Regions from separate parts of the Homo sapiens genome. Here region 1 is linked to region 2. Evidence: fine-mapped expression QTL. A gene starts in region 2. The other region holds a variant in brackets. All regions are shown on one strand. Distances are from middle to middle. Region 1 has its middle 50 kb from the start of TMEM130. Region 2 holds the start of NPTX2 (neuronal pentraxin 2).

Evidence for each region.
Region 1: its variant is fine-mapped to the expression of NPTX2 in aorta (GTEx, PIP above 0.99).

The regions. Positions count from the first base shown.
Region 1 is chr7:98,812,222-98,828,155 of GRCh38, reverse strand. No RefSeq gene overlaps it. Among named protein-coding and RNA genes, the nearest start is that of TMEM130, 50 kb to the left of the region's middle. RefSeq lists an enhancer at 1,439-2,014. The variant A/C (reference allele first, on the strand shown) is at 8,782.
Region 2 is chr7:98,610,268-98,626,201 of GRCh38, reverse strand. NPTX2 (neuronal pentraxin 2) reads right to left here and starts at 8,917. Exons shown (of 5, transcript NM_002523.3): 1 at 8,315-8,917; 2 at 6,343-6,559; 3 at 1,036-1,280. The coding sequence starts at 8,740. RefSeq lists an enhancer at 7,463-8,089.

The DNA.
Region 1 (15,934 bases), 200 kb before region 2:
GGAGGCTGAGGCGGGAGGATCACTTGAGTCCAGGAGTTCCAGGCTGTAGTGAGCTATGATCGCACCAGTGCACTGCAGCCTGGGCTACAGAGTAAGACCCTGTCTCTAAAAGAAAAAAGGTGCTAAGGTCTGCTCACGAAGGTCTGGTACACCTGGAGAGGAGGAGAGGGAGGCAGGGGAGGTAACAGGCCCTGTCTGTAACGCCAGCTGTAACAGAGAGCTGTCTGCGGAGCATTCTGGGGTGTTAAGGGCCCCTGTGCTTTGTGCCTGAGAGGGACTGTACTCATGGGCTGGAATGAAGACCTCAGGAGACCTGAGCTCCTGTTCCCCAGGATCACCACATGGCTTAGGCAAGCTGATTGTCTTTCTGACCTCAGTTTCCCCTCCGTAAAACCAGAAGTTTCAGATCAGCATGCCCAGCTCATCGATTCCTGGATTTCCACCACTGCGGCTCAAGATCAGGGCTTGCACACAGGCAAATGCCAGCAGGTCTCTCCAGGTTGTGCGTTTTTATTTTTTTAGAGACAGTACCTCACTGCAGCCTTGACCTCCCAGCCTCAAGGGATCCTCCTGCCTTAGCCTCCCAAGTAGCTAGGACTACAGGTGCATGCAACGATGTCTGGGTACATTTATTTTTCTTTTTTGTAGAGATGGGTGGGGGAGGGTCTCACTATGTTGCCCAGGCTGGTCTTGAACTCTTGGCCTCAAATGATCCTTCTGCCTTGGCCTCCCAAAGCACTGGGATTATAGGCATGAGCCATTATGCCAGGCCCTCTGGGTTGTTTCTGGGAGGATGGAGGGATCCAGTGTCTTAGGGGAGGAAGTTGAGGGCCACCTGGAGCAGGGCTGGAAGGGGGCATAGTCCTTGCTGATGGGGAAGATTACGTTAGAGATGGGGGTGGGGAGTGGGGGAGGGGGTTAGCAACCCCCTGATGGGCCATTCTGATGAAAAGTGGAGTGTTAAGACCAGGTCCTGAGGGGGTAGGAGAAGGGGTCAGGGACAGCTCTCAGAGGCAGGATTGGCTGAGGGACGTCCAGGGCCAGGTGGCCTTGTTTCAGTTTAAAGGTGTCCAGGGCTGTGCTGGAGCCCGGAAAAAGCCGCCTACAGGCAGCGTTGAGTCCCTGAAGCTCTGTGGATGTGACGTCTGGCCGAGAAGGACGGCTGGCACAGGGCACTCCCTGTAGCAGGGCAGATGGAGAATTCAGCGAGAGCCAGAACTGAGTGCCAGATGGGCCTGGAGCCGTGTCAGCCTGCTGAGAATCCCCGGAGAGCCGACGGGCACCAAGCCCAGTGTTGTTGAAATGTGGCAGGACAAGGTGACCCCAGATGGCCGGCAGGCTTGAGGGTGAGGAAGAGGCTGGCAGATGGGCCAATGGTGGGAGAAAGTCTGTGCTGTGATTTCAGCTGGGTTCCCCAAACTCGCCCCCGTGCTTGCACACGGCCAGCAGGTACGCACACCTGTGTAGGTGTGCACACCACGGTGCGACCGCAGACACGCAGACACCTGGGGCGGCAGGCCTGCCTCCGCCTCCAGCTCTCACCACCGACATCCTCTGTTCCTAGAGGTGTGTTGTCCTAGAAATCCCTTTGCCGTTCGAGGATTTCTTGGATGCTGCGGCCAATTTTCATTCCTGCCACGAAGCTTCTCCGCAGACCCTGCCAGGAACATCTCTTTTTCATTTATTTCGGGCACAGGAGAAGCAGCAAGAGGAAGAACCCTGCAGACGTCTCCGTGGTATTTTCATCAACACGGCAGCCTCCTGAGCACGTACACCCTGAAGCCAGGGCCTGGCTCCAAAGAGCGGTGGGACCAGAGCCCCTCGCGGGGAGGCAGGGAAGCTGTGTGGAGGGGAGCACACCTCCCTCCCTCCCTCTCTCCTTCCCTCCCTCCCAGATCTGGCCCTTAGCACCTGCCTGACTCCCATGTCTTCTGTCCTGTGGGGGCAGGGGCCATGACTGGGTGCTCCACCTTTGTAGCTCCAGTGCCTAGGATGGAACCTGGCCCACTGGGTTGTGTTAGTTCAGGTCCTTTGGAATCAGAAGTCAAGAGAGATTTTATTTGGGGAATCACCTATATAGTGAATTAAATAATGTCCTTCTCAAAAGTTTATGTCCACCCAGATCTCAGAATGTAACTATTTGGAAACAGGGTTGTATTAATCCATTCTTCCCCCTACTTTTTTTTTTTTTTTTTTTTTTTTTTTTGAGATGGAATCTTGCTCTGTCACCCAGGCTGGAGTGCGATGGCGCCAACTCGGCTCACTGCAAGCCCTGCCTCCTGGGTTCAAGGGATTCCCTGCCTCAGCCTCCCAAGTAGCTGGGACTACAGGCACCCCCACCACACCCGGCTAGTTTTTTGTATTTTTAGTAGAGACAGGAGTTCACCATCTTGGCCAGGCTGGTCTTGAACTCCTGACCTCGTGATCCACCCACCTCGGCCTCCCAAAGTGCTGGGATTACAGGCATGAGCCACCACGCCTGGCCTGTATTAGTCCATTTTGTTTTGCTATATGGGAATACTTGAGGTTGGGTCATTTATGAAGAAAAGAGGTTTATTTGGCTCACGGCTCTGTGGGTTGTGCAAGCACAGCACTGGTGTCTGCTTCTTGTAAGAACCTCAGGAAGCCTCCAATCATGGCAGAAGGCAAAGTGGGAGCAGCCAGGTCACATGGCGAGAGAGGGAACAAGAGAGTGAGGAGGAGGTGCCAGGCTCTTTTTACCAATCAGATCTCACAGTAATTAATAGAGCAAGAATTCACTCATGACCATAGGGTGGGCACCAAGCCATTCATGAGGAACCCACTCCCACGACCCAAACACCTCCCACCAGGCCCCACCTTCAACATGGGGAATCATGTTTCAACATGAGATTTGGAGGTGACAAACATCCAAACTATACAACGGTCTGTGCAGGTATAATTAGTTAAGAATCTCAAGGTGAAATTATCTTGGATTTAGGGAAGACTCTAAGACCAATGACAGGTGTCCTTAGAAGAAGAGCTTAGAACACTGACATGCACAGAGAACAAAGCCATATGACAAGACAGACAGGGATTGGAGCAATGGGTCAACAAGCCAAAGAACACAAGGATTTGCCAGCAGTCACTAGAAGCTAGAAGAGACAGCCAGGCATGGTGGTGGCACATGCTTGTAGTCCCAGCTACTCGGGAGGCTGAGGCAGGAGAATCTCTGGAACCTGGGAGGCGGAGGTTGCAGTGAGCCGAGATTACACCAAGATTGCACTCCAGCCTGGACATCAAAGCGAGTCTCCATCTCAAAAAATAAAATAAAATAAAATAAATTTAAAAATAGGCCAGGCACGGTGGCTCACGCCTGTGATCCCAGCATTCTGGGAGGCCGAGGCGGGTGGATCACCAGGTCAGGAGATCGAGACCATCCAGGCTAACATGGTGAAACCCCGTCTCTACTAAAAATACAAAAAAACAAAATTAGCCGGGCATGGTGGCGGGCACCTGTAGTCCCAGCTACTCGGGAGGCTGAGGCAGGAGAAAGGCATGAACCCGGGAGGTGGAGCTTGCAGTGAGCCGAGATCACGCCATTGCTCTCCAGCCTGGGCGACAGAGTGAGACTCTGTCTCAAAAAAAAAAAAAAAAAAAATCAGCGCAGGGAAAGGATGCAGGGGGCAGAGTCCAGGAGGATTCAGCACATGGAGTTTCCAGTTGTCCCGTCCTTTGGAGTCATGGCTAGCATTCCCAACAATGATGCGTGACGACGTGCATGGAGTATTGCTAACCAGGGCAGCTCACCTGAGCCTTGGTGTCCAGTTTTTACTGGGGCTTGGTCATATAGACATGGCTGATGCCTGATGTGGCTGACAATCCCCATCCCCTCTGGAGGTCAAGCTGATGCTGTGTAGCCCAAAGCCTCCACCATAAGTCATGTACGTTGTTAGATTGCATAGCCCCAGGCCCCCAGGTAAACGAAGACATTCTTACCAGACAGGATGTTCTAAGGGCTTAGAGCTCACCTCCCGGGAGCTGGTGGTAAAAGCCATACCACTCTTTGGATAAAGTTAATTCTTTTTTTATTTTTATTTTTTATTTTAATTAATTAATTAATTTTTGACACAGAGTCTCGCTCTGTCACCCAGGTTGGAGTGCAGTGGTGCAATCTTGGCTCACTGCAGCCTCCACCTCCCAGGCTTAAGCAATCCTCCCACCTCAGTCTCCTGAGTAGCTGGGATTACAGGCACCCGTGACCACGCCCGGCTAATCTTTGTATTTTTAGTACAGACAGGGTTTCACCCTGTTGACCAGGTTGGTCTCGAACTCCTGGCCTCAAGTGATCCACCTGCCTCGGCCTCCCAAAGTGCTGGGATTACAGGCGTGAGCCACCGTGCCTGGCCATCTTTTATTTTTATTTTTAAATTAATTGTTTATTTTTTGAGATGGAGTCTCACTCTGTCACCCAGGCTGGAGTACAGTGGTGTGATCAGAGCTCACTGCAGCCTCCAACTCCTGGGCTCAAGCAATCCTCCTGCCTCAGCCTCCTGGGTAGCTGGGACTACAGGTCCACCACCATGTCTGACTGATTTTTAAATTTTTTTTGTAGTGATGATATCTTGCTATGTTGCCTAGGCTGGTCTCAAACTCCTGGCCTCAAGTAATCCTCCCACCTTGGCCTCCCAAAATGCTGGGATTCCAGGCGTAAGCCACTGCACCTGGCCTAGGATAAGGTTAATTCTTTACTACACACAAGTCAAGGGACCTCAAACAAGATACTAAAACCTCTCAGCACCTCAGTGTCCACATCTGCAAAATGGGCATGTGAGCACCTTCCTTCTAGTATTGTCAGGAGGGGGATTATGCAAAAGAGCATCTAGGAAAGGTTCCAGTCCAGGGCCTGCCATACAGCAGGCACTCAATGCACTCTTTTTTTTTTTAACGGAGCCTCATTCCGTCGCACAGGCAGGAGTGCAGTGGTGCAATCTCGGTTCACTGCAATCTCTGCCTCCCGGGTTCAAGCGATTCTTGTGCCTCAGCCTCTTGACTAGCTGGGATTACAGCCGCCCACCACCACACCTGGCTTATTTTTGTATTTTTAGTAGAGACATATTTTTGTGATGTTGGCCAGGCTGGTCTTGAACTCCTGACCTCAGGTGATCTGCCCGCCTCGGCCTCCCAAAGTGCTGGGATTACAGGCATGAGACACCACACCCGGCCAATAAACTCTTGTTCAATGAACGAATGAAGGAAGGTAGGGAAGCCCCCAGCCTGGCCCCTTACACAGGCTAGTCCTTTGGAAGGGAAGGCGGCCCCTGGAGAGCAGTGCTGGCTCAGCCTGCTGCCTGATTCACAGGTGACTCATCCCCAGCTTTAGGACAAGATCTAAGGGGCCTTGGCTGGGTGCGGGGTTCTTAAAAGGTGAGCTGACGTCCCAGTTGCAGAGTAAGAACTGAGCTCATTACGTGTGGCCTTTTTGATGAATTATAAAAAGCCTGAGCCTCATGCTGAGAACGCAGAGAAGGGATGTGAGGCCACCAGCAGATGTATACATTTTATTTCTGAAGTGAGAGGAATTCTGGCTTTACTGGGAGAAGTAAACTTTGTGCAGAATGACTGAGCAGGCTGAGGGCTGAGAGGTGCCATGCCACAGTCAGGGCCCCGTCAAGGAGAAGGCAGTGGGGCCAGGTGTCATTGTGCCTTTTAGGAGACAAGTCCAGGGCTGTGTCATCTGCTGGCAGTGAGAAGTCAGCTCTGAGCTCCTCCCCGAAGGTGGTTTTTCCTTTTTCTACTTTGAGAAATGTGCTGGCAGGCATGGATTTTTTTTTTTTTTTCTAGACGGAGTCTCGCTCTGTCACCCAGGCTGGAGTGCAGTGGCATGATCTCAGCTCACTGCAACCTCTGCCTCTCGGGTTCAAGTGATTCTCCTGCCTCAGCCTCCTGAGTAGCTGGGATTACAGGCACGTGCCACCACGCCCGGCTAATTTTTGTGTTTTTAGTAGAGACAGGGTTTTGCCACATTGGCCAGGCTGGTCTCGAACTCCTGACCTCAGGTGCTCTGCCTGCCTCAGCCTCCCAAAGTGCTGGGATTACAGGCGTGAGCCAGCTTGCCCAGCAGGATTCAAAGATTTTCTATTTGTGATTGGTTAAGGAGGCAAGGCTTTGTCTAAAAAATTGTGGACAGGGCCTGACATGGTGGCTCATGCCTATAATCCCAGCACTTTGGGAGGCCGAGGTGGGCAGATCACTTGAGGTCAGGAATTCAAGACCAGCCTAGCCAACGCAGCGAAACCCCATCTCTACTAAAAATACAAAAATTAGCCGGGCGTAGTGGCACGCACCCATAATCCCAACTACTCAGGAGGCTGAGGCAGGAGAATCACTCAAACCCAAGAGGTGGAGGTTGCAGTGAGCCGAGATCACGCCACTGCACCCCAGCCTGGGTGACAGAGCGAGACTCCATCTCAACAACAACAACAAAAAAGAAAATTGGGGAGAGTAGAAAAGAATGTTAGCTCTGGTCTGTGGGTATGACCTTCTCCAGGCCCCTCAGGAAGAAATTTAGAACAAAGAACTGTCAGAGTTCAGTGCTCAGTTCCCCCTTATCTGAGGTCTACCTGCCAGCAGCAGGTCCATTTGGCAGGAGCCCAGGTTTCTGAAAAACTCAAGGACATCTTTGGTTCCCATCAGGAACTAAACATCTTGTGATTTCCTTGGCTATTGCTTTAAGCTACTATTACCTTTTTGGTTATCAAGTTGCTCATTTACTGCTCAGGACTAGCTAGGTGCCTGAACTTTCCCTTGAAGGAACTCAAGATTTTCCTTTATTTCCATGCTTGGAGGGGGAGGGTGCCCACCAGGCCCCTAATAGGGCCTCTGCTTTATCGCATCTTCAGGGAGGGCTTTCTAGTGGGCCCGTAGCCAGGAGGACAGGTCCTCCACGACCCACCCTCAAAGTCCATGCCTGGCCTGGCATGTTAGCTCATGCCTGTAATCCCAGCACTGTGGGAGGCTGAGGCGGGCAGATCACCTGAGGTCAGGAGTTCAAGACCAGCCTGGCCAACATGGCAAAACCCCGTCTCTACTAAAAATACAAAAATTAGCCGGGTGTGGTGGCACATGCCTTTTAATCCCAAGAATTGCTTGAGCCCGGGAGGTGGAGGTTGTAGTGAGCCGAGACTGCGCTACTGCACTTCAGCCTGGGCAACAGAGCAAGACTCTGTCTCAAAAAAAAAAAAAAAAAAAAAGTGAAGGTTGCCAATAGGATTTGTGAATAGATTGAAGGTGAGGTTTGAGAAAACATGAGAGAGGTCGAGAGGTCGAGAGGTCCAGGGTCTCCCTGAGGTTTGGCCTGAGACACCAGAAAAGTGGAGTTGCCATCAACAGAGATGGGAAGGCTGGAATGAGGAGGTGCGAGGGAACAAAGCTGGAAGACCAGTGGGTCCACAGGTGCCTATGGGGAGACGTTTCAGGAAATAGGAAGAGGAAGTGGAAGATCCAGTGATCACCACCACCCACTGCCCACTACCATCCTTCTCTGAGCTTGTCTTGTTACCAAACCAAATTGAGATCCTCTCACCCAGCACAGTAACGCTAAACATCCACACCACAGTTTGCAGTGGGAGAAGTGAAGGCATTCATTGCGGGGCTCCAAGCAAGGAGAGGGAGGTTACAGTCAAAGCTGTCAATCAATACATGGAAGTTATACCTTGGTTTCACCTAAAAAGGTGAGACATCTCAAAGCAGGAGCCCACAGGCCATAGGAGGATTCAAAGATCTTCTTTTTTTTTGTTTTTTCTTTTTTGAGCTGGAGTCTCACTCTGTCACCCATGCTGGAGTGCAGTGACGCGATCTCAGCTCACTGCAACATCCGGCTCCCAGGTTCAAGTGATTCTCCTGCCTCAGCTTCCTGAGTAGCTGGGATTACAGGCCCACCACCACGGCTGGCTAATTTTTGTATTTTTAGTAGAGATGGGGTTTCATCATGTTGGCCAGGCTGGTCTCAAACTCCTGACCTCAGGTGATCCGGCAGCCTTGGCCTCCCAAAGTGCTGGGATTCCAGGCGTGAGCCACCACGCCCAGCCAACCTTCACAATTTATCCAGAATCTACTCATTTTTTTCCACCTCTACTGCTCTCACCTGGTCTGAGTCATCACCATCTCTTGCCTGAATGATTGCTGTTGTTTCTGCCCTTGTGCTCACCGTCTAGTTTCAGCACAGCAGCCTATTAAGACCTAGGTTGATTAGGCCACACCCCTGCCCCAAATCCTCCAGGTCTCCCAGTCTCACTTAAGGTCCCTGACCTGCTCCTGTCCGACTCCTTGACTTCACTGCTTGTTCACTGTGGCAAGGGGACCTTATAGGCAGCAGGGGGTCCAGAATGTGGGAAGTCCTGTCATGCTAGAGATGCCCATCCTGAAATCAGACGCCAGAGTAGGGATCTGGGCTTGAGGTACAAGGTGGTGTGGGATATAATGAGGTTTCTCGTCAAATAATCTGATCAATCTTTTATCCTTTATCCATAGTACCCGCCCCCCCCCCCACCTTTTTCTCCTTTTTTTCCTTTTTGCCTTTGTTAGATGTCCAGGCAGGCCACAGTACCAGGCGTTATCAGTACCAGCTCACATTCCTTTCCTTATTTGGAAAGAAGACTAACTTTCTTTTCTTTTTTTTTTTTTTTTTTTTGAGATGGAGTCTCGCTGTCGCCCAGGCTGGAGTGCAGTGGCGCGATCTCGGCTCACTGCAAGCTCCGCCTCCCGGGTTCACGCCATTCTCCTGCTTCAGCCTCCTGAGTAGCTGGGACTACAGGCGCCTGC[A/C]ACCACACCCACCCGGCTAATTTTTTTCTATTTTTAGTAGAGACGGGGTTTCACTGTGTTAGCCAGGATGGTGTCGATCTCCTGACCTCGTGATCCGCTCGCCTCGGCCTCCCAAAGTGCTGGAATTACAGAGTGAGCCGCCGCGCCCGGCCAAAAAAGACTAACTTTCCAGATCATTACAGACACCTCTTCCCCTTCCTGTCCACTTTCTTTTACGTGCCCACCTTATCCAGAAAAAAAAAAAAAATCAAATGTCTAGTCAACCGGGATTAGTTTAGATTGTACGACCCAACCCCGGCCAATGGCAAAAGGGTGCAGGGGCAGGACTTGCCTCAGGAATAAAGGCTCTCGTGCCCCTTTGTTCAGGTGCGCTCTCGTGGCGACTGGCCAAGGAGGCACCCCTCTGCACAAAAGCAAAATTGCTTTGCTAAGGATCCTTTGTTCGAGTGTTCAATTTCCTTAAGATTTTGAGCGTTATTCCTAACAGTGGGACTCCACTCCGGAGGCGGGGCTCAAACACCACACCAAATTGAGGACTAGCTAAAAAAGGACTTCGGTGGAAGCAGCTTTCCATAAGACACGCCCACCAGTGTGCTATGTCAGTTTACCATTGCTGTGGCAACGCTCAGAAGTTACCGCTCCTGGCCGGGCGCGGTGGCTCACGCCTGTAATCCCAGCACTTTGGGAGGCCGAGGCGGGCGGATCACGAGGTCAGGAGATCGAGACCATCTTGGCTAACACGGTGAAACCCTGTCTCTAATAAAAAAATACAAAAAGATTAGCTGGGCGTGGTGGCGGGCACTTGTAGTCCCAGCTACTCAGGAGGCTGAGGCAGGACAATGGCGTGAATCCAGGAGGCAGAGCTTGCAGTGAGCCGAGTTCGCGCCACTGCACTCCAGCCTGGGCGACAGAGCAAGACTCCATCTCAAAAAAAAAAAAAAAAAGAAGTTACCGCTCCTTTCCGTGGCAATGACCCAATGATCCACAAGTTAGCACCCTTTTCCTAGAAATTTCTGCATAAACTGCTCCTTAATTTGCCTATAATTAAACGTGGGTGGTATAAATATGACTGCGGAATTGCCTCCAGGCTGCTGCTCTGGGTTCACCGCCTAAGGGTAGCCCTGCTTTGCAAGGAGCAATACCTCTGCTGCTGGCTGTGCACTGCCACTTTAATAAAAGTTGTTGTCTAGGCCAGGTGCAGTGGCTCATGTCTGTAATCCCAGTACTTTGGGAGGCTGAGGCTGGCGGATCACCTGAGGTCAGGAGTTCGAGACCAGCCTGGCCATGGTGAAACCCTGTCTCTACTAAAAATACAAAAATTAGCCAGGCGTGGTGGTGCACGCCTGTAGTCCCAGCCACTTGGGAGGCTGAGGCAGAAGAATTGCTTGAACCTGGGAGGTGAAGGTTGCAGTGAGCTGAGATCACACTACTGCACTCCAGCCTGGGCAACAGAGTGAGACTCCACCTCAAAAAAAAAAAAAAAAAAGTTGCTGTCTAACACCAGCGACTTGCCCTCGAATTCTTTCCTGAAGGAAGCCATGAACTATCCCAGACTAAGCCCCAATTTGGGGGCTTTCCTGTACTGCATTAGGCTCAGGAGGTGAGCAGGCTCCACCACTGCCAGTGCAGGAAACTCCCTATGAATAACTAGAGATCTTCCCATGGGAAATATAACACCACCATCTTGTTTCATGATGGCAGCCAGAAGCCCAAAGAAAACCCTCCCTGAATATGCATGCATGTGTGCACACACACACAGACACACACAAACACACACACACAGAGACATACACACACAGACATACACACACAGACACAGACACACAGACACACACACATACACAGACACACAGACACACACAGACACAGACACAGACATACACACACAGAGAGACACACACACACACACACATACAGACACACACAGACATACACACACAGACATACACACAGACACGCAGACACACACAGACACACACACAGACATACACACATAGACATGGACACACAGACAACACACACAGACACACACAGACACACACACACAAACACACCCACATACCCACAGACAGACAGACACACACAGACATACACAGAGACACACACACAGACACACACACACACACACTCACTGACTCCATTCGGCTCTAGGTCTTTAAATGAGATTTGATTCATTTAATCCTTACAATGACCCAGGAGACAGGTTACTACTATTATTTCCAGATGTGTGGGGTTTTATTATATTCTTTTTTGCAACATTGCAATTATTGTCAACAACAGTTCATTATTTGAAAATTCTTCCTGGGACAGGCAGACAAATGTGAAACCCAAGACAGTTGGGATGGAACAGAACTCCTGGTTTGTTTGGTGAATAGGAGCTCGGTAGGAATGAGCTTGGAAGAGTTGATGTCTCATTCTTTTTACTCCAGTTGAGTGTGGTGTGGAACCATTGGCAACTCTACAAGCCCTAACATTTGGCCATCGTGGGAGACTATGTTAATTCTAATACTAAAGCCAATGTGAGTTCTGTTCCCACCATGTACCAGGCCCCTTGAGGAATGCTTTGTTCACCCTGTCAATAACCCAGCATCATGGAGGGTGGGGACTTCATTGTACAAATGAGGAGACTGAGGCTCAGAGAGGCTAAGTAACTTGCTCCTCAGCAAAGCTGTGTAGCCAGCTCCAATCCCGGGAGATTCACTTTGATCTCTGTTTCCACTGGTCTCCACGAGGGCCTTCTATCCATGGCAGAGAAGACATGCAAACTCATGGGTAAGTCAGGGATGTTTCCTACCTCTCTCTGTGCCTGGTGAGAGGCACAGACTCTCTTCTCTGGGACTCTTGGCTGCTTAGCAACTCTCACTGTGTCTGGCCTCTTGTTCTCTTCTCATTTATACTTTTCACCAACTGCCAAGCCCTGTGCTCCCAGAGCCGCCTGTCATAATATTCCGGCAGCCTGGCCACCCCTTATCCAGACTCTCCAGGCTGTACCCAGGGACTGGTTTCCAAAAATACACATTGGCTTCAGCACGAGGCTGAAGGGCAGGGCAGCCGGGAATTGGGGGGGCTGGCACTGCAAGAGAGTCAGCCAGTAGCACTCTGGGATGGAAAATTTTACCCAAACTCATGGGGATATGGCAAGGATCAACTCTAGACTCTGGGGCTTATGAATGAGAATGGGCATCTTTGACATCAGGCATCCCAGTGTCTCACCTGCAACCTCTATTGGGCCTGAGCGGTGATGAGGAGGCTCTTTGCCATTGTGTAGGCACATCTGTGCATGGGGCCATAAAACCTAACGCATTTGCCTGCTGAGAAGACATTTTAATAAGGGCCACTGTGCACCGTTTTCAAGACAGGCTTCTCTGATGAATAGCTTAGATGAGCCTAATAAAGTTATAGGTGAATGGAAATTAGGTCTTTAATAGGTCCAGTGGCAGCTGGGGATTGTTCACATTGCCTTGTTTTATGAGATCAGGATAGAACATCCCCACCCCGGCCTTTCATTCCTTCAATCCCACCTTGGAGCAAAGGTCCTCATGGCTGAGACCTGTTCTGTTAACCTCTCCCAATCCTCTGATCTTCCATCTCCTATCTATCTATCTGTCTGTCTGTCTGTCTGTCTATCTATCTATCATCTATCTCTGTCTGTCTCTATCATCTATCTATCTATCTCTGTCTGTCTCTATCTATCTATCATCTATCTCTGTCTCTATTATCTATCTATCATCTATCATCTGTCTCTGTCTATCATCTATCTTTCTGCCTGCCCATCTTATCTATTTATCTATCTATCATCTATCATCTGTCTGCCTGCCTTATCTATCTATGTATCTATCTATCTATCATCTGTCTTTCTGCCTGCCTGCCTGTTTTCTACCTATCTATCTATCTATCTAATATCTGTCTCTATTATCTATCTATCTATCTATCTATCTATCTATCTATCTGTATCTTTTGTTAAAGACTGGGTCTTCCTTTGTCGCCCAGGCTGGAGTGCAGTGGTCTAACCACAGGTCACTGCAGCCTTGAACTCCTGGGCTCAAGTGATCCTCCTGCCTCAGCTTCCCAAGTAGCTGGAACCACAGGCATGTGTTACCATGCCTGGCTAATTTTTTTTTTAATTTATTTTTCGTAGAGAACTGAGTCTTTCTATGTTGCCCAGGCTGTTCAAACTCTTGACCTCAAGCAATCCCTCAGCCTTGGCCTCCCAAAGTGTTGGGATTACAGGCATGAGCCACCGTGCCTGGCCATCCATATCTTTTTGGACCAGATGGGCCAAGGGAGGTGTAGGTTGTCCCAGTCTGCCTCCGACCTGGGTAGAACAGAGACCTAGCTTTGCACCCACAGCATCTACTAGTGGTAACCAAACCAGGAATGAGACAAGAGTGGGCCTGCCTAGTGCAAAGGAGGGGCAAATCTGCATCTGTGAGAGCTGATTCCACTTGACAAATTTGTCCTGAGTTGGACTCAAACTTGTCTGGGGACAAACTTGTCCCCCATGTTCCTGGCTGGGCCACACATTCCAAGACAGACACTTGGGGAAAAGACACAGGACTGATGGACACAGCGAGGCAAGAGGGTGAGGGTTCCATTGTGGACTTCAGAGCCACAACCATCACCACCATCAGGTGACAGCTCCGAGGCAGGTCCAAGAGGATCTCCAGCACCAATATGGAAGACGCCATCTGTTTTCAAAAAGCTCCCAGTGCAACGTTGATCCCAGCTGGGCTTTCCATATTACAATCCAGCCCCTCCATGCTCTCTTCATCCTCCTCCATGCCTCCTTCTTCCACAGAAGGCAGGCCTGGGTCATGCACTATGTTTGCAAATGTCCTGGACAGTGGAGCCTCTTGCACCATCATGGAGTCCCCTTCAGTGGCTGCTGTCTGCACTGTGTCCCCCAAGTAGCACACGAAGTTTATTGCACGTGGAGATTCATCAGATCCCAGGCAGCTCTGAAGAAGGATGGGTGTCTGTGTGTATGCTGAGGGGTTGCTCCAAGCCATAGATCCAGTAAGTCGCACAATCAGAGTTGGGAACTCAAGTTTTCCGCCCTCTGCATCCCTTCCCCAACATTGCTGCACATCACGTCTTGGAATAATTTTTTCTTTTTTTTGAAATGGAGTCTCTCTGTGTCACCCAGGCTGGAGTGCAGTGGCACGATATCGGCTTACTGCAGCCTCTGCCTCCTGGGTTCAAGCAATTCTCCTGCCTCAGCCTCCCGAGTAGCTAGAATTAGAGGCATGCGCCACCATGCCCGGCTAATTTTTGTATTTTTAGTATAGACAGGGTTTCATCAGATAGGCCAGGCTGGTTTTGAACTCCTGACCTCAAGTGATCTGCCCACCTCGGCCTCCCAAAGTGCTGGGATTACAGGCGTGAGCCACCGCACCCAGACTGGAATAAGTTTGTTTTGATGATAGGAGCCCTGTTGCTGCCTTCAGGAATTTATACATCCTTTGAGTCATAGCATAGAAATCTGTGGTGTTGGGTGGCATTGTGGCTGTTTACTGTCTTTTGAAGACCCATACACATTTTGTGTAAATTAGGATAAAGAATAGTGGTGGAAATTTTTCCTAAAATGAAGGTCACTACAAACAACTTTTCCGAGTGCAAATGTCCACAGGGCTTCGCTTCTCCCAAAGGCAGAGGGTTTCAAAGCTTCTTCAACTGTGATGTAAGATGGTCAGGATGAATGAACGTCACAATGAATCAAAGCTCTCAGTAGCGATGTCTCAGCCTGTCACATTCATTTCTCAAGTTCATCTGATTGTCATTCTCATAACTGCTGCTGGCTCAGGCAAGCTGCAGTATTCATCCATCCTCCAGGAACGCATGCTGGGGACTCTGGTTTTGAGGATGAGTTAGACGTGGAGTTCACAGCCAAGGGTGGGAGGAAGAGGTGACACGAACTCAGATACTCTGGGCCTGGGAACTCAGGACCCAGGATGAGGAGTACAGCCAGGAGGGGACCTGGGCAGCACAGAGCAGAGAGATGAAACCTACAGGGGGATCTGGGTTGAGCAGGAGGTGACTTGGCAAAGGCTGCTCAGAAGGGCAACATTGGATATTCTCTCCACTCATTGAAAATGGATCATTTAGATTTGACCTTGGAACCCTCTATGAAGAGACAGTCTGCCAAGCAAGTGATTGGTAGAGACAAGGTTGCAGGGAGAAGGTTCATAAATTACATATTTGTATTTCACCAGTGTAGCTAAAACTGGATGCAATTTCCTCCTTTCTCCATTTTTTTGGCTTAATGAATATCAATCATTCAATATATATATTTTATATATTTTATATATATATACAGACAAACGTGTCATACTGACTAAGATTCATTAAGCCTATATATGATATATAATTGATATATACATGATACATACAATGATATATACATTGATATATGTACATGATATATACAATGTCTATATCACTGCCTATACATATATATAGGCAATGAAAGACAGGGCATTTGGGAGGCCCTGTGTATATGTATACTATATATATATATAGCCTATACAGGTATGCATATACATACATACAAACATATATACATATATAGGCTATATATATACACACACACATACATACATAATTTTTAGAGATGAGATCTCGCTCTGTTGCTCAGGCTGGAGTGCGGTGGCCCACTCATAGCTCACTGCAGCCTTGAATTCTTGGGCTCAAGCGATCCTCTGCCTTAGTTTACTGAGTAGCTGGGACTGCAGGCGTACACCACCACACCTGGCTAATTTTAAAATTTTTTTGGAGAGGTGGGGTCTCACTATGTTGCCCAGGATTGGTCTTGAACTCCTGGAGTTAAGCGATCCTCCTACCCTGGCTTTCCAAAGTGTTGGGATTACAGGCATGAGCCACCGTGCCTAGCTGAAATCTTTATACTATATGTTCTACCTCTTAAGAATAAATGTGGGCTGGGTGTGGTGGCTCACGCCTGTAATCCCAGCACTTTGGGAGGCCGAGGTGGGAGGATCACAAGGTCAGGAGATCAAGACCATCCTGGCTAACACAGTGAAACCCTGTCTCTACTAAAAATACAAAAATTAGCCGGGCTTGGTGGCGGGCGCCTGTAGTCCCAGCTACCTGGGAGGCTGAGGCAGGAGAATGGTGTGAACCCGAGAGGTGGAGCTTG
Region 2 (15,934 bases):
TGTGAGAGGTCCCCAGGAGGCCCAAAGTGGCCTTTTTTTTTTTTTTTTTTTTTTTGAGACAGGGTATCGCTCTGTCACCCAGGCTGGAGTACAGTGGTGCGATCATAGTTCATTGCAGCCTCGACATCCTGGGCTCAAAGCCATCTTCCTGCCTCAGCCTCCCGAGTAGCTGGAACTACAGGTGCACACCACCACACCTAGCTAACTTTCTAATTTTTTGTAGAGAAGGGGTCTTGCTATGTTGCCCAGGCTGCTCTTGAACTCCTGGGCTCAAGCAATCCTCCTGCCTCGGCCTCCCAACACACTGGGATTACAGGCATGAGCTACCATGCCCAGCCCTTGAGAAGACCACTCCTGAATGCCAAAACCAAGCAGTCTATTAAGAAGGGGCATTTGCTCTGGAAAAGGCAAGACCATGGGTATACATAACAGGTCAGCAATGGCCATGGGCTGGGGCTGGGATCAGAGTTAACTATGAAGGGGTATGAGGGGGTTTTGGGGGGTGATGGAACTGTTTTATATTTTTTCATCGTGGTGGTGGTTACACAACTGTGTGCATTTGTTAAAACTTCCTGAATTGTACATTAAAATGGGTACACTTTGCTGTATGTAAATTATATCTCTAGAAACCTGACCCCCACCAAAATATGCTTGTGGGGAGTCTCTTACACTGAGACACACACACCCCCTTAATCAGTGTGGCCCTGGGGAACAGCCCTCACTGACCGGCCTGAGGTCCTCTCTCAATCCAGGCTGCACACGGAGATCTGTTCCTTCTGCCCTTCCATGGCCTAGGTGCCTGGACCTTCTGCAGCTTGGTGGTTGGACTCACAGCTCGGCCCCTCCCCACCCCGCCCCTGTGAGCCGCCCGGCGTGTGCAAAGCTATCCCCACCTCGAGGAGGACAGCCCCGCAGTCCCATGTCTGGGACACTGCTGTGTGGCCCGAGGAGGGCGAGGACGGCTGGGGTGGGGGCTGTGGCTCCCTCCACCACATGATGGGTTCTGGGGAGGGTGGCGGTGCAGGCGGGCCTCACCTTGTCGTTGATGAGCAGCTCGATGGGGTTGTTGCCCCACTCGATCAGCACGATCTCGTTGGCCTGCCCTGGCACCGCATAGGAGAAGGGGGTGCCAATGCCTGGTGAGGCGCTGGACCGCAGCCACAGGCAGATGGTGAAGGCGTACAGCTCAGGCAGCGTCTTCTTGATCTTGCCGTATAGGTAGTTTGTGCGGAGTGGGAGGGACACCTTGAACGCATCTGGTGACTTAAAGGCGCTATTGCCTGGGGGTTGGGAGGAAGAGAGGCCAGGAGTGCGTTAGGCCACCCCACCACCCACCAGCACGGCCCAGAGCCACATCTTGCTAGACCCACAAGAAGGTCCCTCACACAGCCTTGATGGACCCTCCAGCAAGCGACCAAAGACCGCTCCACACCAGCCACTGATAAAAGGCTGAAGTCTGGCAGGATTCAGGACACAAGATGGAGTCCTTGTCCTTAGGGAGCTTACATTCAGGCAGGGAAGGTGACATGAAACCAGCAGCAGGTACGCGAGGGAAGTCCAGGCAGTGGCTCCTGCTAAGACGGGGAGTGGCCGGGGGAGGGAAGGCAGAGGATGCAGGGAAGGCCTGGAAAGACCTGCAGAAGAGAACCCCAGACACAGGTGACAGCAAGTACAGGGCCCCAAGGACGCCCAGAAAAGGAAAGAAAAGGAAGATTTTGTGGGCACTGCATGGGGCACGTTAGAGAATTTAGCTCCATCTTTTAGGACAGGAAAAGAGGCCTCTTGAAATCTAGAAGAAAAAAAGCTCTTGGATGGGTGCAGTGGCTCACACCTATAATACCAGCATTTTGGGAGGCCGAGGCAGGAGGATTGCTTGAGGCCAAGAGTTCGAGACCAGCCTGTGCAACATAGCAAGACCCTGTCTCTACAAAAAATTTAAAAAATTAGCCAAGTGCAGTGGCTCATGCCTGTAATCCCAGTGCTTTGGGAGGCTGAGGTGGGAAGACTGCTTGAGCCCAGGAGTTCAAGAACAGCCTGGGCAATACAGCAAGACTTCATCTCTACAAAAAATATAAAAATTAGCTGGGTAGGGTGGCACACACCTGTGGTTCCACCTACTCAGGAGGCTGAGGTGGATCGCTTGAGCCTAGGAGGTCCAGGCTGCAGTGAGCTATGATTGCATCACTGCACTCCCACCTGGGTGACAGAGGCTCTGTCTGGTTCCTTCTAGTTAATACTCTCTTTTCATAAGTCATATTAGGTGACTAGAAAGCTTGAGGAAGGAGCAGAAGAAAGGTAGATTTAATTTTCTTGTGTTAAGCCAGAAACTGCGTCCTTAGCCACATCTTATAACTTCAGATATTTCCTTGAAATCTTCGCAGGATCTAGGAACCCTGGAGACTTGGGCTTAGAAGAAGGAAGTCTTACAGGGACCCAGGCACCCAATAAACACTTGTCAAGTGAATGAGTCTGTGTCACTCCTCACATGAAAGAATTACCACTGCCGAGGTGAAGCAGTCAGGCTCCCGGGTCTTGACTCCATAACTTAACTCAAAAGTGGCTTTTTGGTCTAAATCCCTGACAAAAAGCACTTTGCTCTTTTCCTCCTCAAGAGAAGACTGAGTTTATTGATCATTTCCTGTAGTCTGGAGCCAGTGGGAGGCAGGGCAACCGCAGGTGTCTCTCCTCATTTAGGGGAACACACCTGGTCACAGCCTTGGCCCTTCCAGACCTTCCTGGAATTGGTGAGAATCCACCCGCCACCCCTATGTCATTGGCACTTCTAAAATCCTTGAAAACAAACTCTAGAATGGGTTTACAATATTTCCAAGGCAGCCTTGGTTGAAGTTCAAAATTAAGTAAACCACAGCGGCAGCCCTTGTCCAGGCATCGTGGATTCCAAAGTTTGCAGGACACCATTTGATTGTGCCAGCTGTCATGGCAAAGGCGGCCCTCTTATTTGAGAACCAGACCCTGCCGTTGAAGGAATCTAAACGCCCTTCACTCATTCAACAAGTGTCGGTTAAGCATCCACAAGGGCTCAGACAGTCTCCGAGGCCATCAGAGACAGGCGGGCTCTCTGGAGCCAGAACTGCCTGTGTCACTGTGGAGTTAAATCAGTCCCTACTGCACAACATGAGCCAGAATAGATAAACCTTTCTCCACCACAATCCCCCAAACTCATTGTCCCTCAGAGTGAATAATACACACGAAAGGCTCTTGGGGGCCGCAGTTCACATCTATCTAAGGAGGGTTTCTGCAAAGGGGCACAGAAGAACCCCCTATCCCCTTTCTAACCTCTCTGGAACAGGCAGTGTGTACATTCTAGAATCTGGGCTTCACGTGTTGCATGTACTCATATCTGCCAATGGTGGCCTCCCGATTGCTCCTGACCTCCTAAGGATGGGCACCTCTCGATGCCACTGCAGAGCTGCTGGGCACCTGGCGAGGGCTGGGAAGACCTGCTCCCCGAAGAAGTCAAGGGGCCAGGCCAGAGTGAAGGCTGGGACTAGTCTCTCATTAGGCTGAAAAGCAAAACTGAGAGAGAGAACCAGAGTGTCCCTACTCCCCCATTTTTGCAGGTTGCACAGTTGAGGCTCGGAGGCTCAGCGAAGTGAGGTGACGTATCCAAGGTCACACAGCTAGTGAATGACAGGCCAGGGGCCGGAAGTCCCTCTTTCCACGACACTTAGCCACTCACACTTAATCTTCAAGTGGCAAATGACCATGTCCTTAATGAAGGCATCATTGTCTAATAAAGAGAAATGGCTGCTATACTTGCGGGAGGGCAGCCTTGCCAATCTGATACGACTCCGTGTGGGTAATATTGTTAGCTTGGTGACAACAGATAGGTTTAATTAGAGCTGGAAGAGCCGAGGGGCAGAGGAGGGGGCCTGTACCCTGAGAGCCAGTGTCTTTTATTTAAATAAAACAGCTTGGCGGTTTGGAGGAAACTTGGTTAAAACCAATTAAGGAATTAAAAGGCCTGACCAATAAATCAGACACTGCAGGTGGCGGAGAGGCTCAGCAGGGGGTGGGCAGCCTGGGGCTGGAAGAGAGGCAGCTTTGGTTTTCTCAGCAGCAACATTTATTTCAACACTGAGCTGGGCAGTGCCTGGACAGCTGGCCTGGACTCTGGAGGCCCTTGCAGAGGAACAGGTCTTGCAGCAAAGAAAAGCAAGCAACCCTGGGCCCCGGGTGGCAGGGGCATCCATATGCCAGGGGTCAGGCGCTTGCTGGGGGCTCCAAGGAGCCTCCGACGCAGCAGGGCTGGGGCCCACACACCGCTCCAGGCTGCAGCCTCCATCACTCCTCTGGGGCCCCACCAACTTCACTCCCAGCTCTGCAATCTGCTGGCAATGTGAATGCAGGCATCACTTTAGTTCTCTGACTTGAGTCCCTCGTCTGAACTAATCCCTACCTTGCAAGGTCATGTCAGGGATTACAGAATGCCAAGTGTGGAACTCACAGCCAAGCATCTGGTCCCTAAGGGGTGGAGGCTGACAGACCAAAGGCCAGAGTTCCCCCACCAAGGCCCCCTGCCTGTAGTGAGGTTAAGGTCTAGCTACTCTGGGTTCAGCTGGATGTGTCTAAGAAACTTGGCATCGTTTCCAATCATAGTACATGTGGAGGGCTGGGCGTTTACTCATCTCTCTACAATTGTCACAAACAGGACACTCAGAATTGCCCAGAAGACAAACTGGTCTGCAAATGATCACTTTCCTTAAAGCACATCCCAGAGCTGAGTTGGTGGAGCTCACAGAAGGATTCTAGAGTTCCCACGGTGGGATGAAGAGAGGCTGGGCTGCCTCTCTGGGGTGCATAAATGGCCAGCAGCGTCTTTGCCCTCGTAGAGGTGAGCTTCCCCTCTGTGCCAGATGAGCTTTGAGGGCTTGCTGGGAAACTAAAGGGTCAGGAGTCAGGCTGGCGGGGTCTGAGTCCTGACTGTTTCTTTCTGGCTGGTAATGGACAGGCTGGGGATGAAAGGGACAGTCACAAAGTGGCAGCTTCTGGGTGGCCAAAGCCATGATGATGGCTTACCTTAGGAGTAAGCCCAGTGAAATGACATTGGCCTTGAGTGAGAGAAAGAGAAGGAGGAGGTGCAGGTTGATGTGACTGTCACTGTTTGCCAGCTAGTGGCCCAGGACCCACTTTGGGCCCCCTCCCCAAAAGATACATGTCCCACTGAGAACGGAGTCTTTTTCTCATCTATGAAACGGGCATACCAGGAGTCTGAGCTCCCGCCTGGCATGACTGAAGCTCTGGCTCACTATTCTGCTATTTACCCACCTCCTCATGGCAACTTGGCCACTGTGCAGAGGGAGGTTTACAGCCACCAAGGTCTCTCATGGAGCCCTCCTCTCGTTCCACAGTTCCCCTTTCGAGAGGCAAACTACCTTTAGTGTGCCAACTCCATAGCCCTGGGTGTCCCGAGGATCCACTGTGGCTCAGGCTGGGTCCACGGAGCCACGCTCACCTGTGCCTAGACGTTCCCTCCTCCTGTCATGGGAGGAGGGCCACAGCAACGGCTGCTTTACCTTCAGGGATGGCTCCTGAGGCCACCCAGCAACAGAGGGGAGACAGAAAGGAAGATTTTTTGGAAACTCAAGAATCTAACAGATCTAACAGGTAAGCCATACTCACCTTTTTCTGAGAAGGGCCAGGAAGAAAGGATAGGTTTTTCTGTAGGAAGAGACTAGGAAAGGGATGAAAGAGACCTGTGGCTTGTGGATGCTGGCTGTAAAATGGAACAGTAACACCAGCCCCTTCTCCATCTGCCCCACCTCGGCCAAAGTCATTGGATGTTCTGCTATTGGGCATCCTCCTATCAATGCATGAAACGGAGTCATGGGGAAGTGGCTTCATCAGCTTAGTGCATCTGGGAAAATTCCAGTCTTATAAACACCCACTACGGGCAAACCTACAACTTCAAACCCAAGCCACCCAGTGGTTTGGGGGTTGATGACGCAATCTGAATTATCCCCTGATCCCTCCCACTCTGTCTCCTGTGGGAGAAACTTACTCACCACAGTGTGAGCAGAGAAGAGAAAGATACACAGAATCCGCTGCCAGGACTAGTTAACAAAGGACTGAAACGCCCGTGTGGTTGCTTATCGAAGCTGGTCCTGGACACTTTCACTTTTCCCTGGATAATGCCAGTGGGGCTGGCAGCTCATTCCTGAGATGACCTTGTTCAGTCGCCTTTATTATTTGCTCACACACTCGGGAACCAGGCCCATGTGGTGTCACAATCCCTGCTGTCCATCAACCAGAATCGCATGTCTGACCACAAGTGGTGAAAATCAGGCCACTGCCAGACAGAGAAACAGGCCAGGCACACACCTCGCTCCAGCTCGGTGACCCTCTGCAGCAGCGCGTTCAGGGTGCTCTCGGTCTTCTGCCGGTGAGCCGAGGTCTCATTGTGCAGCAGGGACTTCTCGTCCTCCAGCTCTGCCACCTTGCGCAGAAGCTGCCTCTCCAGCTCCCCCAGCCGCTGCTGGAGCACCTCGCGGAAGTCGCCGGGCAGCCCAGCATTGGACACGTTTGCTCTGAGCTGGTGCTTTCAGCCACCGGGGAGGAGGGAGGGGCACAGAAAGAGTTAAAAAGAAATTGTGAAATGTGGCTGTGATGGCCCGACCACACAGGGAGAAGCTTCCAAAACGCAAGCCCTGAATCTTGCCACTGGCAGGCAGGGGAGCATCTCACTGATGCTTTTTTGGTATGGAAAAGATTTCAAAGTCAGATAAGAATTACTTTGCTGCAATATTTGAAACTTGTGAATCTAATTTTCCCTTCTCAAAAAGCCGTTTTTCTCCTCTTACTAAAAAGTCAATATTCTAACCAACGCCTAGAATTCTATGTTGGGTAGAGACCAAAACTCAGCTCCAGGATTTTTTTTCTTTTTTAAGAGTAAATCGATGGTTACACAAAGCCAAGGAGCTTTCACCTAGAAATGAAAACAGCCCCCAAGTTCCGGTCTGGCACCAAGGTAAATAACTATGCATGCAGAGATGTTTCTGGAAAATGACAGATCTAAAACGTTGCTATTCTGAACTCCAGCAATCTTTGTTTTTAATGCTGTTTCTAAATCCTCACTTCCTATTTCTCTTTCTCCCCTACCATCATGTGGTTCTGGAGGCTGTGGCAGGCTGCCTACCCATGAGTTCATGGCAAGCTATTTACCTTTCTCCACAAAGTGTTCCAAATTGTGAAATGCACATAATGGGACCTGCCTCATGCCATTCATTGTTCCAAGGATTAAAAAATTAAATGATGTGCCTGACTCATATTTAGTGCTCCAGAAATGTTAGCTGTTAGCAATCACAATGAATCAGGGGATATACAGATGCTGGAAATACTGTATTCAGCCCTCACGCCAAAAGAAACCCTAGAGTCATTTTTGCAATAATTACCACCTGTAATTTAAACCTAGTTTTGCTGAGAAGTATTTTCACAAAGGCTATTAACAGCAGTGTCCACACTTCTTAAAAAGGGTGGAGCCTAAAGATGAAAAATAATTGAAGATTTTTCTCTCAAAGTTCCAAACTGCACGCATTTTCAGAGATAGAGATGAGACGGAGGCGGGAGCGGGGGGCGGGGGGGGGGGACGGAGGGGGAGGGGGGGAGGGGGGGAGAGAGAGAGAGAGAAGGGAATGAGGTCCCTTCCCCTGAAGCAATCCGGAAGAGCACCTTAAAATGGTCCAACTTGCAGACACGGGAGTCTTTGAAGTTAACCAGAGGTTGCCCCTCTAATGCGCGCTCTGGGGTCGCCGGTGACCCCCTGCGCTCGCCTCCCTGCGACCTCCGCCCCCAGACTTCCGCCCCCTCTAGCTCAGCCTGACCTGATTTAAAGAAAGAAACACCACATGCCCGGGGCAGCTGACCTCCCGCGGCAGCCTCGCAGCAACCCGCACGGCCTGCGGGAGCGCATCCCGGCTCGCGGAGATTTGGAGATTTGCAAGAGGATAGAGGCTACCGCGTCCCCGGGTATTTGGCGCCCGCGGCTTGGCCGTCTGGGTTCGCTAGCCCGGACCTCGGGAAGTGCTCGGCGGATCCCGCTGGCAGTCCCGACGCGCGGGGGTGGAATTTAAACGTTTCCTTCCAGCAAGAGCAGCGGTGTGGGAAGGGATACCACGCAGGGGAGTTCCCGAGCAGGATCTAGATCCCCGCCTTTCACCCTCAAGTCCAGCTCACCCCCACGGACGATCACACCCTCCCCAGGGCCAGGCCCCCTTTCCCCATCCTCCCGAGTCTTCCGCCCCCGACTCGGGAGCGTCCCCATTCCAGGTCCCCCGCGCTCCCCGCGGGCCGCTACCTCGAGGCTCTCCAGGCGGTCCTTGAGGGTCTGCAGCGAGCGGCTGAGCTGCTCCACGACGTGGCCGGGGTCCCGCGGCAGGTCGCCCATAGTGTCCTTGCCCGTGGCCCCCGCGCCGCGCGCCTTGCCGCCCGCCAGCCCCTCGCAGCGCGCTAGCTTGCCCGTGAGCTCGCGGATGGCCTCGCGCTGCGCGCCCAGCGTCTCCTTCTGCTGCACGACGGTCTCGCGCAGCTGCAGCACCGCGGCCCTCAGCTCCTCCTCGGGACTCTGCGCGCCGCCCTGCATGGGCATCGCGGGCAGCGGGCAGCCGGCGTGCACCGCCTCTGGGGGCAGTGCCGTGCACACGAAGCGGCTACCGGGCGCCGGGCTGTCCTGGGCCCCAGCGGCCACGGCGAGCGCCACGCTGGCGGCCAGCAGCGCCAGCATCCCGCCGCCGCTGCCGCGCTCAGCTCGGCATGGGCGAGCGGGCGCCGTCGGGGCGCTCCGCGGGAGGCGCCTTCGCTGCTGGCAGTAGCCGCGCTGTCGTCTCGAGGGTCGCGTGCACCGCGGGGCAGAAGTCTCCTGCCGTCTCACAGCCGCACCCACCGCGCTGCTCGGCACTCTGGCCTGCCGGGTCCGCGCGCCCTTTCTTAAGCTGAGGGGCGGAGGGGGCCGGCGTGTGGGGCGCGCGCCACGAGCTCTGATTGGCTCGGCCGGGTGCGCGTCACGCAGTGGGCGGAGCGGGGCGGGGCGGGGGCGCTTTCCGTTGCGCGCCTGGCGGCCGGGCGGGAGCGTGGGCCGGAGCCTGAGGCGAGAGCGCGAGGTCCCGGGCTCTGCCTCAGGAAAGGAGGCCTGAGGTGGAAAACGACACTGGGGCTCTCGAGAGCCTCGGCTGGCCGTGCCCAGGCGCCCCTCGAACCCACCCGAGGACGCGGGCGTCACAGGCTGAGGAGAAAGTGGGAACCCCTCGGTGTCCCGGTGCCCCTTTCTCAGGGTGGCTTCTGGCGCGGCACGGGGCCTCGCTGCGCGTTTGCCGCCGCCCTCAGGGAGGCGTTTTCTCCAGCAGGAGCAGCCCCCCAGGCGGGACTCGAACCCCGACTGCCATCGCGAGCCACCCCCGCGGCAGGCGTGGGCCTTCTCGTCAAGGCCCGGCCACCTCACTCTCGAGGCGGGAAGGAGCCGCACGACGGCCGCCTCCGGATGCAACGGTCCCCGGGACGCGCTCCATGGCCCCGCCTCCACCCCCCGCGCCAACTCGGAAAACGCTCGGGAAGAATCCCGGGGGCCTCGGGGACCGGGACCAGGACCAGGCGCCGGACGCTGATGGGAAGGAGGGGACACCCGGAGTTAGGGACAAAGTCACGAGGCCACTCGCAGAGCCCTCGCGCGCGTGTTCATCGACTGCCCCCTGGGCGGTGACCTTATTCAGCAAGACCTGAGCTCAGGGGCGGGGTGACATCTAACTGGAGTCATCATGATGGAGCCACGTGGTCCAACAGTGCCCGGTCCTTGTAACCAGGAGGGCCCGCAGTGTCACCACTTCCTCGAAGTGAGGCCACTGCCCTCAGCTTCTTGGAGACAGCAGATATGAGCAGAAACCCCCAAAAGTCAGGAGCAAATTTGTTTCAGAATCTCTCCAAATCTGTGGCTTAAAACAAGTTCAGAGGGATTTTGGTGCACAGCTACAGACTGAGCTGGTTTACTGCACATTTATAAATGGAAATCTTTATTTCTTTTCCTCTCTATGTTTTTAAGAAATCCTGTTGCAAGGTCATTAATCACGTTATCCATTATACCACAAACAAATGGATTTGTCACTTGTGCGCAGAAGCCGAGGTTGATTCTGAAAGCAAATTGTACCAAAATAAATGAAATTATTATGATAATATAAACTAGACTGCAGTGATTAATCTCTAGAAACCAAATTCTGACCTGCTTTGCACTTCAAACAATAGCTTCTATTATGTAAATAGTTGTGGGGTTTTCAAGGACATTATTGCTAAATTATAAGAAAAGTTCTATTCTTGAAAATCTCTTCGTGGATAAAAATGAGAGACAGGAACCTGGTCTGCAAGGTATCCAAAGCAGAGGACAATGGAAGTAATGATGGTTCAGGTAAGAATATTCATTAGCAGAAAAAGGTATGGATGGGAGATTTGGGGTGAGTAATGGGCTCATGTTTCTGTTAGCCTGCATCCCCAGGAGGTGTCAGTTTCACCTTGTTAAGTATGACCTTGACTGGACTCATTCTTCCTACATCCTTTTTCAGCTGGATGAAAACTCGAAAAAGTTCAAATAAACCTACATATGCACAAATTACAATAATGAAGGCAACAGGGTTGCAAAGCACTTTATGCCTTGTTACATTTCAGATGATTCATAAGGCACCAAATCCAGACGTTTTCAAAATTATTCAGATAACGATGTGACTTTTCCATTTTCACTCATAGCTTTGATGTTCCTCTTTACTTGTAGACCTAGGTGGCCCTTAATTGGATGTGACAATAGAGTATTATCGTTCCTGTATTGTTCCATATATCCTTTCTTGACACACAGACTGATACATTCATATTTGCAACTACTTGAAGTAGAAGCTTGTTCCTTTAATAATTAAACAAAATCAAGTATCTTTCCAGAATTCTAATTTCCTCCTGAACAAAGAAAGCAGTGTACAAGAGTAAAAATAGCATATATCCCAATATAATTACTCCTAAACGTCTTAAAAGAGATTCCAGTATGAGAAGTGATCAGTGAAATTGCCAAAGCTCAAATGGAAAGACCCAGACATTTGAAATGTTATTTTCTTTGGAGGCAGTATAATTAGAGGCTTAGTTAACAGAGTACATGCTATTTACAGTTTTATTTTATCTTCCTGGTGCAATGAAAAGCCTGCTGGCTTAGGAATGAGGGATCTAGTGCTAATTCTAACTCTGTCACTAGCTAAGTGGTTTGGGGCAAGTCATTTCTCCTCTGGACTTCAGTTTTCTTGCATATAAGATAAGGGAGGGGCGGGGGTTGGGCACGGTGGTTCACACCTGTAATCCCAGCACTTTGGGAGCCCGAGGCAGGCAGATCACAAGGTCAAGAGATCGAGACCATCCTGGCCAACATGGTGAAACCCCGTCTCTACTAAAAATACAAAATTTAGCTGGGTGTGGTGGCGCCCGCCTGTAGTCCCAGCTACTTGGGAGGCTGAGGCAGGAGAATCGCTTGAACCCAGGAGGCAGAGGTTGCAGTGAGCCAAGATCATGCCACTGCACTCCAGCCTGGTGACAGAGCGTGACTCCATCTCAAAATAATAATAATAATTTTAAAAAGATAAGGGGATTAGACGCAACTGTCTAAAGGTGCTTTGGCTGTACTCAAGAGCATGATAGTTTGAAAAAGAAGGAATCACTGTTGGTGTGAGGAACGTTTCAGAAACTTGTTTTTTCTGTGTGTGTTATTAACCACCTGTAGCCAAAGGTGAATGTGGAAAGGCAGGGTCGTTTTGTAGTACAGCAGGTAAACCTTCATACACGGAGACGCCGTAGTTGTGGTTAAAACCTGCTTTCGACAACACGAAAGCTCATACTGGGTTTACTCACAGCACAACAACTTTGTCTACCTGAAAGATCCTGCATGTATGACTCATGCTACCCATGAGGATGGTTATGTGAGTGGCAGAGACCAGGGCCCACAGATTTTCCTCCACTTGAAAAGTCGTGCAGATCTGCAGCAGTGAATCAGCTCCACCTAATCTCTTAGTGTAACTGATGCTGCAGCATAGTAACCACCCACTCATTCACTATGTCGGCTGGTCCCAGGTCAGCTGTGAGCCCAGTATGGACTTAAACCGTGTGCTGGGAATCCTGATGAGCTCATTCCGCCTCCATTTTATTGCCCCATCTGTTTGGTTCTCTTGTTCTTCTCACATGCATTTTTATCTTGGTCTTCTGGGAAATGTGCTAATTTCCACCATGGTGTGAGAGGATCCCATCTCATACTTTCTTACATTTCCTTCTCTCTTTCTCAGTGCCACTTGGGAAGTCAAGAATGAGAGTGTGAGCTCTAACAGAATCCAAGGACAGCTTCCTGCAAACATGATTCGGGAACTGTCCTCGGTGCTGAATTTCAATTGGAAGGGGGAAATAGACGTGTGTGTGTGTGTGTGTGTGTGTGTGTGTGTAAAGTTCAGTGCAGATAAAATAGAATTTGGAAGCTCCAGAGGATCCCTACTAACACACATTTATGCTTAAAATGCTAAGACGCTTTCAAGAGTGGATTTTTTTCCCCACTAGATTGAACTGCATGGTAGTGTGGAAAGAGCTTGAGCTTTGGAGTCAGACAGCTTTAGTTTCAGTCCCAGTTTTATGACTTGCCACTTTACCTTGAGAGAATGATTTAACCTCTCCCAGCCTCAGTTTTCTCATCTCTAAAATCAAAGCTAAATTTACTACAAAATATTGTTAGGCTTGAGTGAGATAATGTAAGTGAACATGTTTGGCATATAGCCAGTGCACAATAGATGATAATTGTCCTTTTCTTCCCCTTTTCTCCACTGAATTTAGACCTGTATTATGTAAGTCCCTTTAAAAACAAAGTTGAAAAAAATTCTTCCCTTTCTGCAATATTCTTTAGAGTTAAATAAGGCAAGAATACTTAAGAAAGAACAGGCCAGCCTCCCAAGAGGAAAGACAAGGGATGAAAACTTCAGGAAAATATACTGGTGTCTCAGCAAGATAAAGATATACTACTTTGTGGGTTTTTTTTTTTTTAAAAAAAAGATAAAGCATGGTATTATTGAGCTTTAATCAGAGGATTCAGTCAAAGTGAACTGTTTCACACCTACACTTGGGATATATCACCAGACTATGTGCCTGGACCCAACTAAAAAATTTGTAATATTTAACATCTCAGTGATTCTGAATTTGTGTTGCTACGGGACCCAAATAGATATAAGCCCCTCAGATAAAGCAAAATGTTCTTGCTTCAGTGCATCTGTGTTCTTCTTGAATAACATATTTCTGGCTAAATTTTGGGAGCATGTGAGATGAGACACTGAGTTTCAGGAAGTGGTGTCCCTGTACAAGTATATTATCACATTTAGCTAGAGAGCCGTGATTTAGGGGAATTGGTTGTTCATATTACTCAACTGATTTCAACAAACCAAAAAAGGCTTTTGGTGGCATCCTCTGATTTCAAGCAATAGAACGAGTCACCGGATATACCAGGGATAATGTCTTACCTCAGTTTTTAAAAGTAAGGGATAATAGACTGGGAGTGGGAGGAGGCTGAAGGAAGGAACATCATCAACTTAGTTTGCTTTGAGAAAATCTTCTATGAATGTAGTCTCAATTTCTCTATATTAGGAAACACCAAGAAAGTGCCCCACTTTCACATAACTTACAAGTGGTGAAATTGGCCTATTTCTGATAAAGACATGTGGCTCAATATCTCTGTATGATTCAGGCACACAGGTAGCTTGTATGAATCTTTGAAAGTGAGAGTTTGAAGATATTTTATAGAATTTTGAAGACTAGGAAACAGTTTGAGAAAGGTTAAAATGTCATATGGCAGCTAGATAGGAAGACTAGGTTCTGGTGTTCTACAGCACTGTAGGGTGAGTATAGCTAACAATAGTTTATTATATATTCTCAAATAGCTAGAAGAGAGGATTTTGAATGTACCCAACACAAAGAAATGATAAATGTTTGAGGTGATTGATATGCTAATTACCCTGATTTGATCATTATACATTGTATGCATGCATTGAAATATCACTCTGTGTCCTATAGATATGTACAATTATTACATGTCAATTAAAATTATGTTAAAGTAAAGACTTCCCCTCCCCACAAAATAAGTTCAAAACCATGCTAAAAAGATCATAGGGCTACTTAACAGCAGGGCCATGCTGGAACTCAGGCCCTCTGGTTTCCAGTAAGGGCTCTTTTCTCTGTATCACTCCCTAACATACTCATTAACCTATTAGAATGCTTGGTTTCTTCTTCAATAACTGCTTTCTTAAAAATCAATAATTTGCCATTAATTTCAATGTCCCCTTTTCTGTCATTCTCCTGGAACTCATCAGCATTGAACACTGTTGGCTAAGTCTTTTTTATTAGAATTTTCCAACATTGGTTTCTATGATATTGTATTCTTCTGGTTTTCTTCTTTGATTTCTGAACATTTTTTCCTTTCTTTCTTCTTTTCTGGACCTTCTTTCATTACCTGCCTCCTCAACACACATATTCAAAGTTGAACTGTCCATAGCTCTCTCCTTTCTCTCACTGTACTCTCTACCTTAACAGTTTGAAGTTTTTAAGTTATATTAATGATTCTGTCTTAGTTCATTTTCTGCTTCTATGACAGAATACCACAGGCTCAGTAACTTGTAAATAAAAGAAGTTTATTTGGCTCATAGTTCTGGAGGCTGGCAAGTCCAAGAGCATGGTGCTGGTATCTGGTCCATAGTGGAAAGGTGGAGGGCAGAAGCAAGTGCATATATCTGAGAACTACCAAGGGCTGGGCTTGCTTTTATAACCACCCACTCTAGTGATAATTGACCCACTCCTAAGATGATTGCAATAGTCCATTCATGAGGGCTCCCTCCTCATGACCCAGTTAATCCATACTTGGTCCCACCTCCCAAAACTGTTGCTTTGGGGGTTAAGTTTTTAACACATTAACTTTTTAAATTTTAACTTTAAGTTCTGATATACATGTGCCAGATGTGCAGGTTTGTTACATAGGTAAACGTAATACAGGAATTTTGAGGGACACAAACCGTAGCAGAAACTATCTATACTGAGTTCCAGATTATAATAAACCAACCGCATGTTGGACATCTCAAAGATAAACTACCCATACTTCTAACTCAATATGTCAGGTAAATTTATTGTTCTCTTTATTTTCCCTCTATTCTTCCTCCTGTTTCCTATTTCTTATGTCATTAATGCTTTCCAAGTCATTCAAATTCAAAACTTTGGAGACATCTGTATCTCCTCCACCCCCAATTTTATTCAAATTCTAGTGCATTTCTAAGTCCTAATTCTGCTTGTACAATATGCCAACTCTATTCTCACTGCTACAATCTCATTACTTCTGTTCTAAACTATACAGTTGCCTCTAACTGAACGATTCAGCTCTACAATGTCCATTTCAGCTTGTACATTCTATTGCCAGGTCAGTTTTCCTGAAGTACAGCACTAAAGCATTGATCTGCACTGCTCAGAAACCTTCATTATTTCTCTATGCAAATGTGTAAACTCTTTAGTCTCCATCATTTTTCCCCACACCCACCTATTCATTCCAATTTTTACTATATCCCTTGATCTACCCTCACTCCAAAGTAAACTTATGCTTTTCACAAATGACCCATATTTTTCATCCTCTGGCATTGGGACTCAGGTTGTTTCCCATATCTGGAGACAGATCTGGAATGATCTTTCTTGCATGTCTAGGACCACAAGACCCACTCTCATCCTTCACGGCTCTGCTTACACACTACCCCCTCCACAAAGCTTACCCTGATTTTGCTCAGTTTGAAATGACACAATAACGTTCTTTATTTCTCTTAGTACTTTAAGCCCTGCATTATAATTATCTTTTCTACTGGATTATGAGCTCTTTAATGGCAACATCTAGGTCTGATGTACT